Regions from separate parts of the Homo sapiens genome. Here region 1 is linked to region 2. The links come from fine-mapping of genetic effects on gene expression. A gene starts in region 2. The other region holds a variant in brackets. All regions are shown on one strand. Distances are between the middles of the regions. Region 1 has its middle 31 kb from the start of PARP8. Region 2 holds the start of PARP8 (poly(ADP-ribose) polymerase family member 8).

Region 1 (10,075 bases), 31 kb after region 2:
AGTAAGTAATTACTGGTACGTCTGTACAATGCCTCATGCAGTCACCACTGACAGCATGGGAAAGAGAGACATCTATTATGAAATGACCACTAAGACATATGATTACATGACAAATGCAAAGTTCACGAATAAATAGTATGTATACTAGTATAGTGTACTTCTTTCTAAGAAAGAAACCATAACACATACAAGAATGGACAAGAAATTATTAACAATAGCTAACTTTGATGGTAAGACTGTAGGTAGTAAAAAGCCAGACCTTCGTTTCTCATTTTAAAACCAATGAGTTATTTAAATCTAACCCTACTGCATTCATTATCTTTATAATAAAATAAATATGTATAACAATGAAACATAGTTTTTAAGTATTTGGGATATAAATTAAACATTAATATATTACACCTCTTAAACTTTGTACTTTAGTATCCCAATTCTCTGTTAGAACTCTGAAAACTTCATCTTTCACAGTTTAGGTAATTCTTTGGTGTCTTATTTTGTTATTTTCTTGCCCTGAGATTAGCACTGTCAGATCTCCAAACTGCTAAGTTTTCCCTTTGGCAGATCAAATGCTTCTTCTTAAAAAAATTAATTTTTTAAAATGTATTTCGTAGGATTTTTGTGCTCTCTCTCCCTCTTTTTGTGCATATGTGTGTGTGTCTGATTAGTCTTTATTCTCTTAAAATAGTTAGTCCTGATAGACCTCTTTCTTCAAAATTTGTCTCAGTTCTTTGGCAGTTTGCTCTTAGCTTATAATTAAAGATCAATTTCTGACTTGTCTTGTTCTAGAAAACCTCAGTGGAAATTACAGAAAGCTGAATAGGATATTAATTAAAAACATAAACCTGGTGAAACCTGAACATAGAGGCTCCAATTCAAAGATGCTTCCAATAGTTGACATGGCCATTCATTCCTTAAAACCAGGTATTTTTCTTTCAAATTACATTACCTTTAATTCTGTAAATTGGATGTTATATAGTACCATGAAAACTGCTGTGAATAATTGTAATACTCATTGCTGAGTGATGTGACTTCTTCCTCAAGGCTATTTCTGAGGGAAATTGTACAATTAGATCTTTAGGTATTGTGACTTGTTTTGGAAATCATGGTGGCCCTCCAGGGAGCTAATGAATCTTTAAATATTTAGAGGTTCACATGAGACCCCTGACAGATATAAGCACATTAGCTCTGTAGTTAAGGGAACATTTAAAAACAGTAACATGAAATGTGTCAGACATAGAGGAAAGATGAAGAAGAAAGTAGAAGCTAATGCAAACAGAAAAGCTGCCAGCTCTCTATGGCACTCTATAGCTCTCTCTGTCAGTATTTGGTTGGCAATGTAGACATAGTGGATGAGTGCAATTACATATGTTAGGCTCATTCTGAAATGCAGGAGCCTTTTAAATTTTCATGTAGAAGCCTGACAAGCAAACTACATCTAGGATATACTTTGATAACTTTGAGTTGAGAGCTAAATTTTTTGAAGGTAAACCATCTCCCTGTTTTAAAGTAGTGTTTAAAATGATAAAAATCTTAATACGTCTGTAATATAAAATATTTAGATACAAATACTACAAATGCAAATGAATTTTTTTTTTTTTACTTCTGCATTCAACTTTTCTCTTCTCCCTTTAGGGAAAACACTTTTGTGTAAAGGCCTGCAAAATATATGTAGAGGTGTGTGTATGTTAAAAACATGTATACATATAATGCATAACCAAACAAATGAAATATCCTAAACATATGGACCTGAAAATTGCTTATAATAAATTTGGACTGAACATATGGGCATAAATGTGGTTCAGAAGTGTCCAGTTGAAGCAACTTCACTTTGTTAGGTCAACAAAAGTTGGGGACACCAAGATCTACTCCTCTGATTTTGTTCTAGCATTATCTTAATGGAAATGTTTACTGAAATGGAAATACCTGCAGTGGACATCGTGGTGGTACCTCAAGCATTCAGTGTTCCCTGATCTCACACACTCCTAACCAAATAATGAATTTCTCAGCTTCACAATGTTTAAGTGACATGAGTCCCATGCCCAATTCTTGGTCATTGTAATTGGTGCATGAAAGAGCATATGCCTTCTGCTAATCAAATCAGAATGAAGTACACCTTTTTCATTCCACGATTGAAGGGGGAAATGCCTTCTTTCCAAATGCAGCAGAGGAAGCACAAGGTACTAGGATTGGAAGTTGTCTACTCATGACATGATATTTTAAGCCATAGAATAAAACTGAGACCTAATGTCTTAGTCCTTTCAGATTGCTATACCAGAATATCACAGCCTGGATGGTTTATGAACAACATAAATTTATTTCTTACAGTTCTAGAGGCCAGGAAGTCCAAGATCTAGTTGTCAACAGATTCAGGGTCTAGTGAGGACTTGTTTCCTGTTTCATAGACCGCTGTCTTTTTGCTGTGTCCTCACATGGTGGAAGGGACAAGGAAGTTCTCTAAGGTCTCTTTTATAAGAGCAATAATCCCATTCATGAGGGCTCTGTCCTCATGACCTAATCACCCCCCGAAGACCCACTGCCAAATATCATCATCACACTAGGGATTAGATTTAAATATACAAATTTTGGGGGGATACATTCAATCTATACCACTTAAGGTAGAGTGAAGAAACAGGGAAGACAAGAAACATTTATTTTGTGTCATTATTGAACTTCTGCATTAAACTATCTTGAGCCTATACTATTGTTCAAAATCTATTATACAAGCCAGTTTGAATTTTGCTTTTTATTGTTTGCAACCAAAATTAACCTAATAAATTAAAATGTACTATAATGTTAGATCGTAATTTGTCTGTACTAGTAGTATTTGCTAGAGTGTTTAGGGGAATACTTGCTTGTTAACTTTTTAGTAAATATAACACTCCATGTTCAAATACATTTGGAAAATACTGAACATTTCACACTTTTAGAGACTCAAATCAGGCAGCACATTTTTAAAAAATAAAAATAAAACCAAATAGCATTGCATTTGGAGAATGGTATAAAAAAAGAGAATTTGATAAACTGGAGTTACCAGAACTCAGTGGATACTATGTGTTAGACATTATTATAAGCCATTAAACATTTTACAAGCTTGATACCTGAGTTAAAAATTAATAACCCAAAGACTCATTGGAAGAGAAAAGATGACATATTTTTTATTATATTAACGACATAAAAATATCATAGCAATTAACCTCATTATATACAACAAATGAATGAACATAAATAATATTAAATAACTATTACAAAGTCTCTCTGATTAAACGTAGAAATAAATAGGCACTGCTTTTGACCAATAAATGGAGGACATACATTATTTTCAAATACCAAACAAAAAGATTCTAAATGTAAAGGTTTTAGGCCCAAAATATGTTAGTCAATTCATGACAGCAGAAATTCAGCAGGTCATATTTTTGGGGTAATGTAAATGGCAGTAGAAATCATGGACTAAAGTGTAACAAACAAGAAATATCTAGGCAGGTGGAAATTTTATTAAGATGTTTTAAATTAACTTCTGGACTAGAGCAAAACTTCAAACTAAAATTCATCAGGGAGTCAGGGAGGGTCAAATGAAGAAGCATGGGGATTGAGGCAAAAACCCTGAATTATACCAATATTATCTTTTTTTTTTTTTTTTTTTTTTTTGGAGACAGGATCTTGCTCTGTTACCCAGGCTGGAGGGCAGTGGTGTGATCATAGTTCACTGCAACTGCGACCTCCTAGGCTCAAGGGATCCTCCCACCTCAGCCTCTTGAGTATCTGGGACTACAGACCCTCATCACCACCACACCCATCTAATTTATTTATTTTTTGTAGAGATGAGGTCTCACTTTGTTGCTCAGGCTGACCAGTATTATCTTAATGTTACAGAAAAAAAGTAATTCTGGCCATATATAGGTATTATTCTTTGCAGTGGAATGTCATTTCAGAAATTTGTGCCAAACATAAAATTAGTTTTCTAGTAGTAAAAAGTAATTAAACTTTATAAATTATTATTACCCCTAGTATACTGGGGAATGGGCGTGTGTTCCAAATGAAAAAACTTGGGATATCTAATGAGAGGCTGTTTTCTGTAGCAGAAAATCTATGTAAAATGTTTTTTCCCACGTGTACACTGTTGATATTTGAGACAGCACATGTTAACACTTCAAGAAGTAAAATAAATGTGTTGATTATATCCACAGTTTTCATATTTATTAACTATATATTTCATTTTTAATGTAATGCCTATTGAAAAACCTGTAAATAGTTGTTGCTTAAAATTGAAAAATACTGCCTAAGATTTTTCTATATATTTTCATATTTCACTTTTCCTGTGAGTTTAGAATGAACACTTTTAGCTAAGACATTTGGGCCTCCAAATACTAAACCTCTTAGAATGTTGGTTTATTATTTGGTTTTTACCTAAATTATTTTCTGCTTATTCAAGAACCTGAGGTCTATCCAGTTACATTTTTATTTTTTTATTTTGAAACAAATTCTCCCTCTGTTGCCAAGGCTGGAGTGCATTGGCATGATCTCGGCTCACTGCAACCTCTGCCTCCCAGGTTCAAGTTATTCTCCTGCCTCAGCCTCCTGAGTAGCTGGGATTACAGGGGCATACCACCACGCCCAGCTAATTTTTGTATTTTTAGTAGAGATGGGGTTTCACCATGCTGGCCAGGCTGGTCTCAAACTCCTGACTTCAGGTGATCTGCCCGCCTCAGGATCCCAAAGTGCTGGGATTATAGGCATGAGCCACCATGCCTGGCTGTATCCAGTTACATTTTTAAGACTAGCCAGGCTTAATATATCTTTGGTCTTTAGCGCAATTCAATTTGTTGAATTTTGTCCATTGTACTTCATGTGACACAGAATATATCTTAATTTAAAAAGACATATGTTTGTTGAGCTATCTGTTACATTTGTATATCTTGGAATTTTAAAAAATATAAA[C/A]CACAGAAGCCAATTATGGCTGACATTAACAATAAATAGGTTTACCACAGAAATAGTGGGGAACTTGTAGAACTGTTGAGAAGGCTAGAAAGCCAGATCAAAGCTAGGCAGCCAGGAAATGTACCCCAAACCATGCTGTAGAACTCATCCAGGGAGGAAACCACTGTCACCACCAGTAAGAAGTAACGCTGAAGCTGCAGAGAGCAACAGTTGCAGCAATTGCTCAATCCTAGGCTAACTGCAAAGCCACCAGCACCACTCCCACTTGTTCCCTATGCAACAGATATTGTAGCAGCTGCTACATGGCCTCCACCAGAAACAAGAGAAAGCATAACTGAATCTGCTTCTTTTTTTATTAATTCCAAAGTCGAAATTCAGCACTGGCAAACAGATTGGCAAAACCTAAATCATATGCTTGTAGCCTAGCTGCAAAGGAGGCTGAGAAAGCAAGCATTTGGCATTTTAGCTTCTAAAGCAGGAGGTGGTTTCTTGTTTTCGTCAAAACTGATAGGCTGAGGAATTCCTCAAACACAGAAACAAACATCAAATAATAAATATGCATGCTTTAACTTGTTCAATATCAATATAAACTTTCCCTTTTGAAAGTAAACACAAAAGACCCAAGCTACCTTCTAACAGAGTGCAACTATTTCTCTAATAATTGAACATGTACCTACAATCTCTTGAACAATGAAACAATAAAAAATTCTCAATCACAGCATGTACTCTGAGTCTAAGAATTCTGGGTTATGTCCATTCCTTACGAAGTTCTCCACTATACTCTCTTGACATTCTGCCACATATCATTTAAAAATTAAGTTAATCACCCTCAATAAGCCCTGTTTTAAAAAGAGGGATAAATGAAGAGGAAAGAAGGAAACTTGTTAAGATACATAAGTATGCACAGGACAATACAAGAGAAACAATGTGTTTGGATGTCAAGGCTCTCCCTTCTGCAAGTGGCCATCAGGTCACTGTTGGCATCTACAGCCATGTGCCCTCAGCTAACACCTCTGCTAGTCAGGGTTTTACCTTGTGAGATGACCCAATATTCATTCCTGACAGAGAAATGTCCTCGATAATCTATTTGTGTGAGCGTGCTATGGTCATTGTTAATTTCTTTCATTTAAAAAAATAATAGACTTTATTTTTTGAGCTGTTTTAGCTTTACGGAAAGATCGAGCAGAAAGTACAGAGTTCTCACATACTCTCACCTTCATCCCACCCCCAGTTTACATTAGGGTTCACTCTTTGTGTGGTACAGGCCTATGAGTTTTGCAAAATGCATAATGTCATGTACCCATCATTACATTATTACCAAACTATGTTCAATCCCCTAAAAATCGCCTGTTTCAGAACTATTTATCTCCCTACCCATCCCCAAACCCCTGGCAACCACTGATCTTTTTTTTTTTGTTGTTGTTACTTGGTTTTTATTTCATAATCATAAACTTAACTCAACTCTGCAATCCAGCTAGTACGGAAGGGAACAAGGGAAACATGGAACCCAAAGGGAACTGCAGCAAGAGCACAAAGATTCTAGGATATTGCAAGCAAATGTGGTGGAGGGGTGCTCTCCTGAGCTACATAAGGAATGGGTCTGGTGGTTAAAATAAAACACAAGTCAAACTCATTAGAATTGTCCACAGTCAGCAATAGTGATCTTCTTGCTGGTCTTGCCATTCCTGTACCCAAAGTGCTCCATGGCTTCCACAATATTCATGTGTTCTTTCACCTTGCCAAAGGCCACATGCTTGCCATCCAAACACTCAGTCTTGGCAGTGCAGATGAAAAACTGGGAACCATTTGTGTTGGGTCCAGCATTTGCCATGGACAAGATGCCAGAACCTGTATGCTTTCGGATGAGGTTCTCATCATGAAATTTCTCCACCAGTGCCATTATGGTGTGTGAAGTCACCACCCCGACACATAAACCTTGGAATAATTCTGTGAAAGCAGGAACCCTTATAACAAAATCCTTTCTCTCCAGTGCTCAGAGCATGAAACTTTTCTGCTGTCTTTGGAATCTTGTCTGCAAACAGTTTGATGGAGATGCGGCCCGAGGGCTTGGCGTCGACGGCGATGTCAAAAAACACGATGGGTTTGACCATGGCTGATAGTACAGGGCTCCCAGCGACGGTGGCATCTGCAAAGATAACCACTGATCTTTTTACTGTCTTTATAGTTTGGCCTTTTGCAGAATGTCATATAGTTGAAATCACAGTATGTACCCTTTTCAGACTGGCTTCTTTCACTTAGCAAAATATATTTGTTTTTTCTGTATCTTTTTGTGGCTTGATAGTTTTTTCCTTTTAGCACTGAATAATATTCCACTGTATGAATATACCACAGTTTGCTTATGTAATCACCTATTGAAGGACATCTTGGTTGCTTCCAAGTTTTGGCAATTAGTCTTCATTAATTTTTTCTTTTTTTTTTTTTTTTTTTTGAGACAGAGTCTTGCTCTGTCACCCAGGCTGGAGTGAAGTGGCATGATCTCAGCTCACTGCAACCTCCGCCTCCCAGGTTCAAGTCATTCTCTTCCTCAGCCTCTGGAGTAGCTGGAATTACAGGTGTGCACCACCACGCCTGGCTAGTCTTCATGAATATTTATAGGACTGTATAGAATTAAGAGCCATCAAAGGGGATCCCTGAATTCTTTCTGTTTTTCTTACAAATACCAGTTTTAAGGTCAAGATTTACTACCCCATGCAACAGTGTGCCACATTTTAAATTTTAAATTTTTGACTGTTTGTCTAAAGGTCTCAGGCAACCTAAAAGGCCAGTTAGAAGTCTTTCATCCTCTAACAAAGGATGGATCGTAAAATGAAATACTGTTGAGACTCTCCCCTTGGGTACTAATTCTGCAAAAACCTAGAATCTCAGAGACAAGAGACAAATATTTGGAGTGGATCATTAGATGTAATGACAAAAGGAGTCACTTCAACATTCATAACAAAGATCAAAGATTGTTGTATTTTTTATATGGGAGACACCAGACAAGCTTATACTTAGTTACTAGTTCAGAGGATACACCACCACATCCTCTGGCATGAGTACAACCTTATAAGCCATTGTCTCCAGCTGGCACTGTGATTGAGTCTTTAATAAAATATTCGCCATTCTATAATAATAATAATTTTGGTTAGTGATAGGATAAATGGTGGACCAGGTGAGTGCAGTGAATATCTACTCATTTGTTATACAACAAGTTCTTTGAATAGAAGGATGTAGAACAGGATATTATGGCAGTATGTATAAAGCATTCAATGTACCCACGGAGAGTGGTGATCAGAGAAACATGATGTCAGGTCAAGCAAATGTAATTCAAGGATATAAAGCTAGATTCCATTTACAACATTCCTTGTTGCCTTTATCATAGAGGAGCTCCAGTAAAATCAACAAGTCTGACAAAAGGTGACTGTTTTTTTCACCCAGGATATGTTATTTTGTGCTTAGCCTTGGTCCTTGTTGCTTGTGTGTTGGACACCTAATAGTCTTGACAGCTAAATAGGCTTTGGTAAGGGACAGTGGTAAAGTCCAACATGTTGCTAAACCTATATGTATTCTCTACTGCTACCACCAATGTTGCTGTTTATTAGCCTTCTGAGCAAGCAATGTAGTGCCTGGTGAAAGAAGTTGTTTCATACCTTCATATTTATTTGATAACCTTCCTGATGATAGTTTGGTGAGTATTCATATTAAGCACAAATATTCTTACACTCTGGCTCATTTTCTGTAGTTCATCTACGTATTTTTCCCCAAAACTCATTGTCACCAATCCTTCAATCTTTGTCCTTCCAAGTCCCTAATTATCTTTTTTTTTTTTTTTTTGAGACGGAGTTTCGCTTTGTTGCCCAGGCTGGAGTGCAGTGGTGCAATCTTGGCTCACTGCAACTTCTGCCTCCTGGATTCAAGAGATTCTCCCGCCTCAGCCTCTCGAGTAGCTGGGACTACAGGCACACACCACCACACCTGGCTAATTTTTGTATTTTTAGTAAAGATGGAGTTTCACCATGTTAGCCAGGCTGGTTTCGAACTCCTGACCTCAGACAATCCGCCTGTCTTGTCCTCCCAAAGTTCTGGGATTACAAGTGTGAGCCACCAGTCCTGGCCCCAAGTCCCTAATTACCTAGACAAATTTTTAGCTGCCACATATAAATCAGTAATATCTCTCCTTCTAGACATCGTGGACAACTGATTACATAGGCTGAATTTCTTTTAAAATTGCATTCAAGTAGGTTATAATGCCTAAGCAATCTACTTTTGGCTGTTGCTGTGATGTTGTACAGCGACTTCTGTAAATCAGGCTCAATTTTTCCCTCACTAATCAACTGGCCATAGAGAAATTCCCATGAAGACATAGGTATAGATTCTATTATTCCTACCTGCGGATGAAGCAGGATAGTTAACTGGAAAACACTTATTTCATGATAAGCAGCTCATGTTGTCATATTTTTTTGCATTGGTAAGACTTCAGTTTCTACAATGGTCCAGGATCAATCAAGAATTCTTTAAAGAAAACATTTATTTTGTCAAAGAAAGAAGCATTTTGTTCCAAATCCTAAGAACCATAGTAGTGGTGTGTCAGAGGCTCTATTGCATCTGGATATAAAAACAAAGGGGCACAATATTCCTGACCAGTTGGGAATTATTATCTTGATCTCAATCCCATCAAAAGATGGCAGCATGACAAGTCATAAAGTAAAAGGACCAGGTGATAAAATGAGGTCTCCAAAATCCAATGCATCAAAGTTCTCAATTAGTGGTCAGGACTGCAACGTGCCATAATTTTTCACTTTGGAAGGTATACCTTGAGTATATTGAGTGTATGAGGCAAGTTAAAAGGTCATGCAGCTGAGCGCGGTGGCTCACGCTTGTAATCCCAGAACTTAGGGAAGCTGAGGCGGGCGGATCATGAGGTCAGGAGTTCAAGACCAGCTTGGCCAACATGATGAAACCCCGTCTCTACTAAAAATACAAAAATTAGTGGGGCATGGTGGCGCCCTCCGGTAGTCCCAGCTACTTGGGAGGCTGAGGCAGCAGAATCGCTTGAACCTTGAAGGCGGAGGTTGCAGTGAGCTAAGTTGGCACCACTGCATCCAGCCTGAGTGACGCAGTGAGACTCTGTCTCTTAAAA
Region 2 (10,075 bases):
AAAACACTAATGGAGAAGAAGGAGGTCTCAGGAGTGTGATGGAACAGGTTTACATGGCAGCTTCAACATTTAATTGATGAAAGTGACTATGTGTCTTAAACTCTCTGAGCCTCAGTTTGCACATCCAAAAGCAAGGATATAATTCCATGAACCTTTCCACCTCAAGTCCACAAGGCAGAATAGCAAGATGTTAACTGCCACTCTGAGGACCACCAAATAAAAGGACAATTTATTAGGCCACTTGCCAGCATGGACACAATCGCCTCTTGGCATTTCTTATTATCCACAGAAAAATTAAAAGTATAAATGTAGAACAAAATTATTATTTTTTTTTAATAGTAACATGTAAGATCAATCTTTGTCTTTAAAATACCATGTATCTCATTCTTGGAAAGCATCAAAAAGAAAACGGTATAGTAAGTTTTATCTACAACTTGAATTAAAATTATTCTTGAAATATGTTCTTAATGGTTAGATGAAATGGTAGTTAAATACAAATAGAGATAATCATATACTCTCTCTCCATAAGGCTCCCACCTCCTTCAATAAAGTCTAGTTCACCTAAAATGATACTATTAATTCAATATTACAAGTTGATAAGCACATTAAATCAAAACACAGCAAGATTATTTTAAGAGTCTGACTGAAATGTCAGGATAAGAAATAGATTAATAAATATTGGTTTATAATGTCGGTAATGAAAACAAATACGTTATTTTCAGAAAATAAAAGGTATTCGCCATTAGGTACAAATCATAAAGGGATTATCTACGGTTACTACACTGTAACAACTTTTTACATATTGTATTTTAGAACAAGCTTTTGAGAAGACAAAGCAACACATCAGCAGTTTAACCAATTGTCTTTCTCTTTTAACAGGCTGGTCTACATTAGATTAGATATAAAAGGCTCAGGTACACTTGTGCTCGATCTTAGCCAAATGGCTGAGAAACAGCCAGGTACATTTAAATCAGTGACAAAAGAAAACACTATCCTTTAATAAAATTACATAAAATAGGAAACATCTCTTACTTTAAGAGCAACCATGGTACTTCTTCCTATGGTGAAAACTGATGTTATCTCGCTTAATTATTCATCCCAACACCTGGCCTTGCTCCCTTTTCCACCTCTAGCTATGTTAACACTAGAGTCCAATAATTTGCTGATAAAGAATCTTAACTGCAGTATCTAACAGATCTTAGTGATTAAGCATATGATTTACCCTTTGATTGTACAGATAAGTAAACTGAGGCCAAAAGAACTGAGGTATCTTATTAAAAATCAGAAAGCTAGTTACTTGAAAAGCCCACCTGTCCTTCCTGTCCACATGTCTCACCAGAAAAACAGCAATAGTGAAAAGTCAACTCTGTTTTTAATGGGCCACTTTGTATATTTTAACTGTTAAAATAATCCAAGAGGATATTAGTCATATACGAAGATCCTTTAGATATAATGTGTAGGACCAGCGTTAATTTAATCAACCAAGTCTCCTCTCATTGAATTATTAATTCATAATTACAAAGATGACATTACAGTAAATTAAGAAATACTGTAATTTCATTCTCTCCCAAAAAGTATACACTTAAGTTTGGTGATTCACTGTTATATTTTCAACTAGTAAATCAATGTGCTAATTCTGGGGCTTAGGTATATTGCATATACTGGAATGATATTCACTTTAAATGTTTTGAGATGTATAATGTAATACAGATCCTACGTGTTTTTAAAAGTTCACATCAATTTCAAGCTTTTAAAAATGTATGTACACAAGAAAGCTTCTTTTGCAATTTATATGTTTATAAATGTTTCCATTAGCTAAGATATATTTTGGAATGTGATCAAACAATATTGAATGTCAAGTCCTAACAGCAGGGCTGGTCTAAGGAATTCCCTCTAAGCTAAATCTGGTACTTCTCATATGTGGCTACTGCTCTTTTAAACTACTGTGTCCCTAAAGGGCTAAAAGGAAGAAAATCCTAACTCAACAAGTGAAGGTAGCAAGGCATAGTATTTGAATGGCTACCTTTCATTTTAACTCTACTTCCTAAATTCAAAATTGGATTTGGGTTTGTTTCAAGTTGTTCACAATTTACTAACGAAATGTGCATCTCTCATTCTTCCCCCAAAAGAAAGAAGTCATCCACTCCAGCTACATATAAGTCTCCAATTTCTATACGTGAAAACCGAAATACCACTCATTGAAAAAAAAATGTACAGAGAATTGGCAGGCTGCATGTTTATGTAAACCTTCAGAAAACATGGAAACACGCAGCCCCAACTCACCAGGAAAATCAACACTTCTGATCAAACTATTTTGTGACATTTTATGTCTTTTATACATTTCACTTCATATCCAGTATTCCAGTTTTGCACCGGCGTGCCTGTATCAACCCCAAATCGCCTGAGAGCAATCTAGTACTGTAGCAGAACAGTTTCAACATGAAGAGTTCTGCTCATTGCCTGTGGCGTGGTCCTCGAAACACCTGAATCAAACATTGATTCCCCTCCTCCTGCTATTTAAAACCGAGGGACGTCAGGCTTGGGTAGCAGGTAAAGAAAAGCCACAATAATCAAACAAACAAGCAACCAAAATACCCGAACACGGAACACGCTAAGAACAAAGGAAACACAAGAGTGTGAACAGGAAATGAAGCAACTCTATACACATAAATACCTTCTGGGGCCGCCAACGTAGGTAAAAGTAAAGGTGGAGTCAGAGTATCTGAAATCTGAAACAGAAAGTCCCGTCAAAAGCTACCCCTGGAGTGGATTTGTTTTAACCCCGATCAGGACTTGAGCCCCACATTCGGTGGTGTCAGGGGAGGCCTGGCCGGGCAGAAGGCAAGGGCTAGAGGGCGGCGAGGTCCCTCTGCGCCGCGTCCGAGGGGATGCGGCGCGCCCCCGACTGGGTGCAGCGGGAGGCCGCCCCCCGCAACAAGTGCCGGGTGCCATGGCAACAGCGGGAATTTCCCGATAGGGGAGGCCGGAAGCAGCCTCAGCCGGGCTCGCGGTAGCGAAAGCAAAATCCCGGGGGAGCAAAATGGACGAAAGGCGACCCCCAGGCAGGGGCGCTGGGTGCCTTGGGAATCCGAGGAATCCCTTCTCTTTGCCAGTCGGAGGGGACTAGAGGGAGCCGAAGGGGCCGGAGATGGGCCGAGCGCTGCCCCCCGGGGGTCCTCGGCGCCGGGCGCAGCTTACAAGCGCAGCGCAGCGCAGCAGGCTCCATTCCCGGCCGCCGCCGCTCAGCCCATTGCGCAAACCAACCCCGCTCTGCCGCCGCTGCTGGAACCCAGGAAGCGTGCTTGGAGGCTTCGGGCACTACGCGGGGCTGGAAATACCACGCACTGCCCCTTCGCCTAGACCCCCGCTCCGGCCACGCGGGCTCTGCCCTCAAAGCTGGTGGCTGCCTCAGACTTGGCGGTGGGGGAGGGGAAGGGGAGAGGCTGGCGCCCCCTCCCCCTTTTGGCTCCCGCGCTCGTTGCAGCAGCTGTTGCCAAATGAACCCCAGAATGGGGACGTGCAACCCTCCACCCCACCCCCAGCCACAGACGTCGCGGTCAGAAAACTGGGAAGGGGGCGCTGGGTCCGAGGTTCTGGAAAAGCAAGAACTCACCTGCAAACAGGCAGTCCTTCTCAGCTCTGGACTTCTGGATCACGACGTCGATATCCTTCTGAATTCGCTCTTGCCTTGAACACATCCCCATTAAATAAATCCCTGGAAAAGAAGCAGCCGCTATTTCCACCCCACCCCACCCCCCTCGCACGCTTCCAGCTTTCGTAAATATTCAGTTAAAAATGAAACCTCTGGCCGAGGCAGGGGCTGAAGGCGAAGTGGTTTCGGAAGTGATCCTGGGTGAGAGAAGAGGAGGAGGAGGAGGGGGAGGAGGAGGAGGAGGGGGAGGTCGGCTTTGCATTCCCAGATGTGACCGCCCAGCTGCTGCTCGCCGCTGCTGGATTCCAATTTCCTCCCCTTCTGACAATGGATGGTGATGACACCAAGTCTCACTTTCTCCCTCACCCGCCCGGACCAACGGCCGTGGGGGCCGAGGTGCCGGGGACAGCCAGAGAGCAATCACCGGCTGGGCGGCGGGCGCCGGCGAGGGGCGAGCCCCGCTCCGGCTCACGCGCGCACACCCCTCACGGCTCGCACGCCGGCCTTCCACACCCGCGCACACTCGCGCCCGCGGGCGGCGGCAGCCGTGCCCAGGCTGCTGCAGCGCCGCCCGCCCGCCGCAGACCCTCCGCGCCCGCCGCCTAGTCACCCCGCCGGCCGCGGGCTGCCGGGGCTCGCAGAGTATTAGCCATCCCGGGCGGGAGCCGCTTCTCCCCACACCGACCTCCACTCGCGCCGGGAGCTGAGCGGTCGTGAAGACTCCCTGGGGCTCCCAGCCTTCCCTCTCCGCGCCCCTCCCCCCATCACTTTTATGAATTCGACTCCACTTTCTAAAGGAATTATAGTCTTGTGGCAAACCCAAACCGGAGTGGCTGGGAGGGGGAAAAGGGGGGAAAAGAAAATCTTTAAAAATTAAAAAAATAATAAAACGAACAAATCTTTCCTTATTGCCACATCACATAACACGGAAAAGGCCTTAAAATTACTCCAGACGTGCACCCTCCCCTTCCCTCAGTGCCTGAGTCTTTTTCCTCCAGATCGAAGTAGTTCAGCCCTTTTGGGGCGCCGTTTACGAAACACAGCCCCTTTTGAGGGACTTCCTCCTCTTGAAACTCACCAGTTCTCCCTTCCTAGGTGTTTCTGTTCATGAGAAATGGTCAGAATCAACTGGCACGTTCCAGGGTCTTCCTAAAAGATGGAAACCTGTTTGGCTTGATTTTTAAAACCACCTCCTTTGACAGTCAAGGGAAAGCTACAATCCAGGTGTTCAGAAATGAGATACTGCTCTGATTCTCACTTTCTGTTCTGCCTAAGGACACCCCAGGCTGACGTAGCTGCCCCACCTCTATATTGGTTTATGCCCTAGGAGAGGTCTCCAGCAGGCACTTTTCTTGTTGATCTTTTCTCCACTGAGAAGGCTCCCGCCAGTAGACCATGACTCCTTTTGCTTTGCATACTCAGTGCCATGTACAGTGCCTGGAATACAGGAGGGTGGCCTAAATGTTGGCTGAATGCACGAATGGTCATTTCTTGCAGCCTCTTTTCATTACCCTGTCTCATCACTTTTCTTATCAGCATAAGTGCCCAAGAGTTGCCAAACTGTTTCAGACCCTTAATCAATTTAGTTCTGATTCTGACCGTGACAACATGATGTTCAGCACGGTAGGAATGACTGCCATCCCTGAAGGAGTCTTAAGATTCTGTAGAATCAATGAAAGATCCTATGTTCTAACTCCTTTATCTTTCAGGAAACAAATTACAAAATAATTTCCTTGTCCAGTCATATTCACTATGAGTTACAAAAGGAAACATTCTGCATTATTGAGATCCACTGCAGCCTTTGATGTAGTAAAGCCACAGTCACAACAGTCTATATCTCCTGCTCAGTCCTCTCCTGAAATGCTTCCTGTTTAGGGTAGGACAGGTTCAAGCCCTTTGTCCTTCCTGGATATGTTGCTTTGTGTAGGCCCTTTGGCTGCCAAAAATGCTCTCTTCTCTTCCACATCACCACTGAGAATCATGAGTATTTCTTCTTCCATTATGTGCTTTAATTTCTCTGAAAGGCTGAAAGTCTATTAACTCACAAGAATTTATTTTATAGTTATCTAGCCACAAGGCTTGCATCTTCCAAGTAGAACCCTTACTACAAATAAATGTGAAATAGTTTTAAAGCTACCAAATATTTTTTTGTCTGGATGAGCTCTTAGTTTACTACTCACTCCTTAAAATAGGCCTTCTTGTGACTTGTCCTATATTTGATTTTTTTTTAAGCTTCATGGGCTGCCCTGTTTTGGTTAAACAAAGCTAACCTCACCCTGTTCATGCCCTTAAGGTGTGATGTATTTAATAAATATTTGTACATTTGAAGGAGTAAGATTAAAAAATAAAAACCTATCTAGTATGTATTTCTGCAAGATAAATTTCTCTAATTAAAAACTATACCAACGTAGATCCTTCCAAGGATCTTCCAGGCTAGATCCTTATGGAGCACTTTGCTCAAAGTAAGTCAGCCCATATCCAGGATCCTTTCTTTACCTTGCCCCATCTCCGAATATTTAAATGTTTATATTATGTGTGCTCAACATACTTCCCTTATCAAAAACTATATGCGCCTTTGAGATGAAACAGTTCTATCTCTCCTTAAACACTCATGAGTATACAACATACACACACATGCATTCAGGAACGTGGCACATAAGAGGCCCTTCACCAATTTGTTAAATAAATAAAATCAATATTTACAGTGAGGGAGAACTCAGGTGGTATCCCAAACTAAATTGAAGATAATAATCTACATGTTGGATGATAGACTCTACTGAAAAAATTCCACCGGTTTAGAATAATGATTCAAAGCCACCAGATATAATTTATTAGTGAAAAATATAAATTTTTTGCCTGTGCCAAAAGGCCCAACTGCGGAAGTATAAGGTAATGGACATGCGGCATTAAGTTCAATAATGTGATGTGGGTATTAATAACTAACATTTATCCAGAACTTAATATTTATCCAGAACTTATCCAGAATTCATTAACATTTATCCAGAACTGGTAGAAACTGTTCTAAAAGCTTTACATATAGTTACTCATTTAATATTCACAATAACCCGTATATACTAGCTGTTATTTTTCTCATTTTACAAAAGAGGAAACAGGCTCAAAGGGGTTAATTCATCTAAGGTGAGACATGGACTACAAGAAGTTTTTTTCTCTCTTGAAACCTTTCAGCAATTGAATTGAACTTAAAGGAATAAATATGTACAGAAGCCACACGAGGAAGTAAACCGCCCCGCCAATGGCTGCAGGCCAGGAGTGAAGCCGACAAGAAGCCCTATGATGGATTTTGAGGAGGGCTGAAGCCTGTGGACTCTCAAAATAGCCTCTGCTAGTGGCAGTTATATTTCCCTTTCTTGCATTCAACTTCCTTTCCCAAATGACCCAGCCATTAGTACAGTCTTAAGAAAAGTACAAGCCTGACCTCTGCTATTCCATGGTTATTAAGAAGAGGATAGGAGGCAGGATTAGCAAAGAGGGGAACAGCCTTCTTTGCCATATGCATGATAGTGTCATCAGTGGTAAATGCCCATGGGAATGCCTACCATCCTTGCTGGGATGTGGAAACAGCACTGGGACAGTTTGCTTTTGTGGCAGAATCAGTGAAGGAGGGACAAGGTAGGGGCCGAGGCATTGCTGTGAGAAGACACCACAAAGGGCCTTTAAACAAAGGTGAGGAAGTGGGATTTCATCTGAGAAAAATGGAGAGCCACTGGAAGGAAGATGATCTGAAAAGTTCTTTCTAATTATGAGATTGATATAGCTTCTGCTTGCGGTGGTTCTGTAATGGAAAGAAATCCGTAAAATTCAAAATGCCTGCTAAGGGCCCAACTACCTTCTTCTAAGTAGAGGGACGTGTGCAATTCTTTCCTTATAAAGCTGCTTGGCTGGTGTGGTGGCTCATGCCTGTAATCCCAGCACTTTGGGAGGTTGAGGTGGGAGGGTTGCTTGAGGTCAGGAGTTCAAAACCAGCCTTGGCAATATTGCAAGACCCCTGTCTCTACAAAAAATAAAATAAAAATTAGCTGGGCATGTGGGTGAATACCTGTAGTGCTAGCTACTTGGGAGGATCTCTTGAGCACAGGAGTTTGAGGCTGCAGTGTACTGTAACTATACCACTGCACTCTAGTTGAGATGACAGAGGGAGACCCTGTTTCTTAAAAAAGAAAAGAAAAAGCTGCCTTTGGAAACTAATCCTACTTTTCTGACCTCTTCTGATAGGTCTACTGTAAAAAACCAAAGTCAACTTTGAATAAACTTGACAAGCTGAAGGAGAACTTTAGGTGATGTTTTGTGGATTTGTCACATTTTGGTTCTTACCATACCCCCCGTTAGGTTACTAAGGTCAAATGTGACGGCACAGGGGTGGTGTTGAGGTTTTATGGCCCTTTCTAGCATCTTAACTAACCTAGGTAATACTAAAGCTACAGGATGAAACCTTAACTCTTCTTTCTAGTTCCAAATTTCACTTTAATTTAGATCCATTTTTCCTGTAAAATTTTAATTCCCCTTTCTACCTAGAAGCATTCTAGACCATAATTAGATGAGATGCCTCACTGTGCCATGCAAACAAACTCATTCTTAGCTTGTATTCATTCATATTAATTCCTTCTTTTGAATACCTCTTTTTCTTTTTCTTAGAAAGTACATAAATACTATATGAATATATTCTCAGCGCAAATGATTTAAGACATATATTAGTACATAAAGTAAAATGTGAAAATTCTTACCTATCCTGACCCCTAATTTCACTCTTCGTCCCAGAGGTAACTAGTGTTAATAACTTTGTGGGAATGTCTTGCATTACTGCATTCTCATATCTTCACACAGATGTACATATGTTGACAGATTTATACATATAAATTTTAATTTAGGTTGGGCACAGTAGCTCATGCCTATAATCCCAGCACTTTGGGAGGCCAAGGTGGGTGGATTGCTTGAGGTGAGGAGTGCGAGACCAGCCTGGGTAACGTGGCGAAACCTCGTTTCTACTAAAAATACAAAAATTAGCCAGGTGTGGTGGCATATACCTGTAGTCCCAGCTACTCAGGAGGCTGGGACCTAAGAATTGCTTGAACCCAGGAAGCAAAGGTTGCAGTGAGCCAAGGTCAGGCCACTGCACTCCAGCCTGGGTGACACAGTGACTCTGTCTCAAAAAATAATAATAATAATTTAATGGAACTACATAATATATATTGTTTTACAACTTGATTTTTTTTTTTTTTTGAGATGGAGTTTTGCTGTGTTGCCAGGCTGGAGTGCAGTGGCATGATCTCAGCTCACTGCAACCTCCACCTCTCGGGTTCAAGCAATTCCCTTGCCTCAGCCTCCCAAGTAGCTGGTACTACAGGCGTGCACCACCACACCTGGCTAGTTTTTTGCATTTTAGTAGAGACGGGGTTTCACCATGTTTGCCAGGATGATCTCCATCTCCTGACCTCATGATCCATCCCGCTCGGCCTCCCAAAGTGCTGGGATTACAGGCATGAGCCACCGCGCCTGGCCACAACTTAATTTTTCTACTTGTCTTGAAGAGCTTTTTTTCTTTGTCATGGAAAGAGATCTAGCTCATTCTGTTTAGCCACTGCAGAGAATGATATTGAATGAATGCAGTATAATAAGTGTTAACCGTACTTCTGCAATCATGTTGGCTTTTGCAAAATGTTTTGTGATTAAAACAATTTACAACAAATGCACAACTTTATGCACAGTTTCAGCAGTTTCTTTGGGAAGTGAATTGACTGGCTCACAGGGAACTGGCTGGCTCACAGGGAACTGGCAAATTTAAAAATTTGATAGATACAAGCAAATTGCTCTCAAATTTACTTTATCATTTTATACTCCACTGTTTTTGAGAATACCTAATTCCCTGCAACATTCCCAACAGTATATACCATTCGTCTTTAATTTTTTTTCAACCAGCTAGGTGTAAAGTATTCATCTTGTTTTTGTCTGTAATTCCCTGATTATTAATGATATTGAGCATTTTTTCAAGTGTTTATTGACAGTTTGTATAGTCTCTGTATGATTGCCTGTCATTTCCTCTATTTTTTAATTGAATTTTTTTGTTTGTATTATTTATTTGTAGGAAGTTTTTATATATTCTAGATAGCAATTCATTTTCTGTTATAGATACTCTTTACTTACACAAAAGCCTTAAATTTTTATTTGTTAGAAAATTTAAAAAAATACACTTTGGGAGGCCGAGGCAGGCAAATTACCTGAGTTGCAGGAGTTCGAGACCAGCCTGGTCAACATGACGAAACCCCGTCTTTACTAAAAATACAAAAATTAGCTGGGCATGGTGGTGTGCCCCTGTAGTCCCAGTTACTCAGGAGGCTGAGGCAGGAGAATCACTTGAACCCGGGAGACGGAGTTTGCAGTGAACCGAGATCACGCCATTGCACTCCA

Evidence for each region.
Region 1: its variant is fine-mapped to the expression of PARP8 in blood mononuclear cells (TOPMed, PIP above 0.99). The same link has a PIP of 0.9 or more in monocytes and whole blood.

The regions. Positions count from the first base shown.
Region 1 is chr5:50,630,101-50,640,175 of GRCh38, reverse strand. It overlaps the pseudogene LOC202319. Among named protein-coding and RNA genes, the nearest start is that of PARP8, 31 kb to the left of the region's middle. The variant C/A (reference allele first, on the strand shown) is at 4,936.
Region 2 is chr5:50,660,725-50,670,799 of GRCh38, reverse strand. It overlaps PARP8 (poly(ADP-ribose) polymerase family member 8), which reads right to left and starts at 4,163. Exons shown (of 26, transcript NM_024615.4): 1 at 3,614-4,163; 2 at 2,675-2,729. The coding sequence starts at 3,704. RefSeq lists silencers at 3,039-3,368, 4,061-4,120, 4,171-4,320 and enhancers at 2,341-3,540, 2,976-3,888.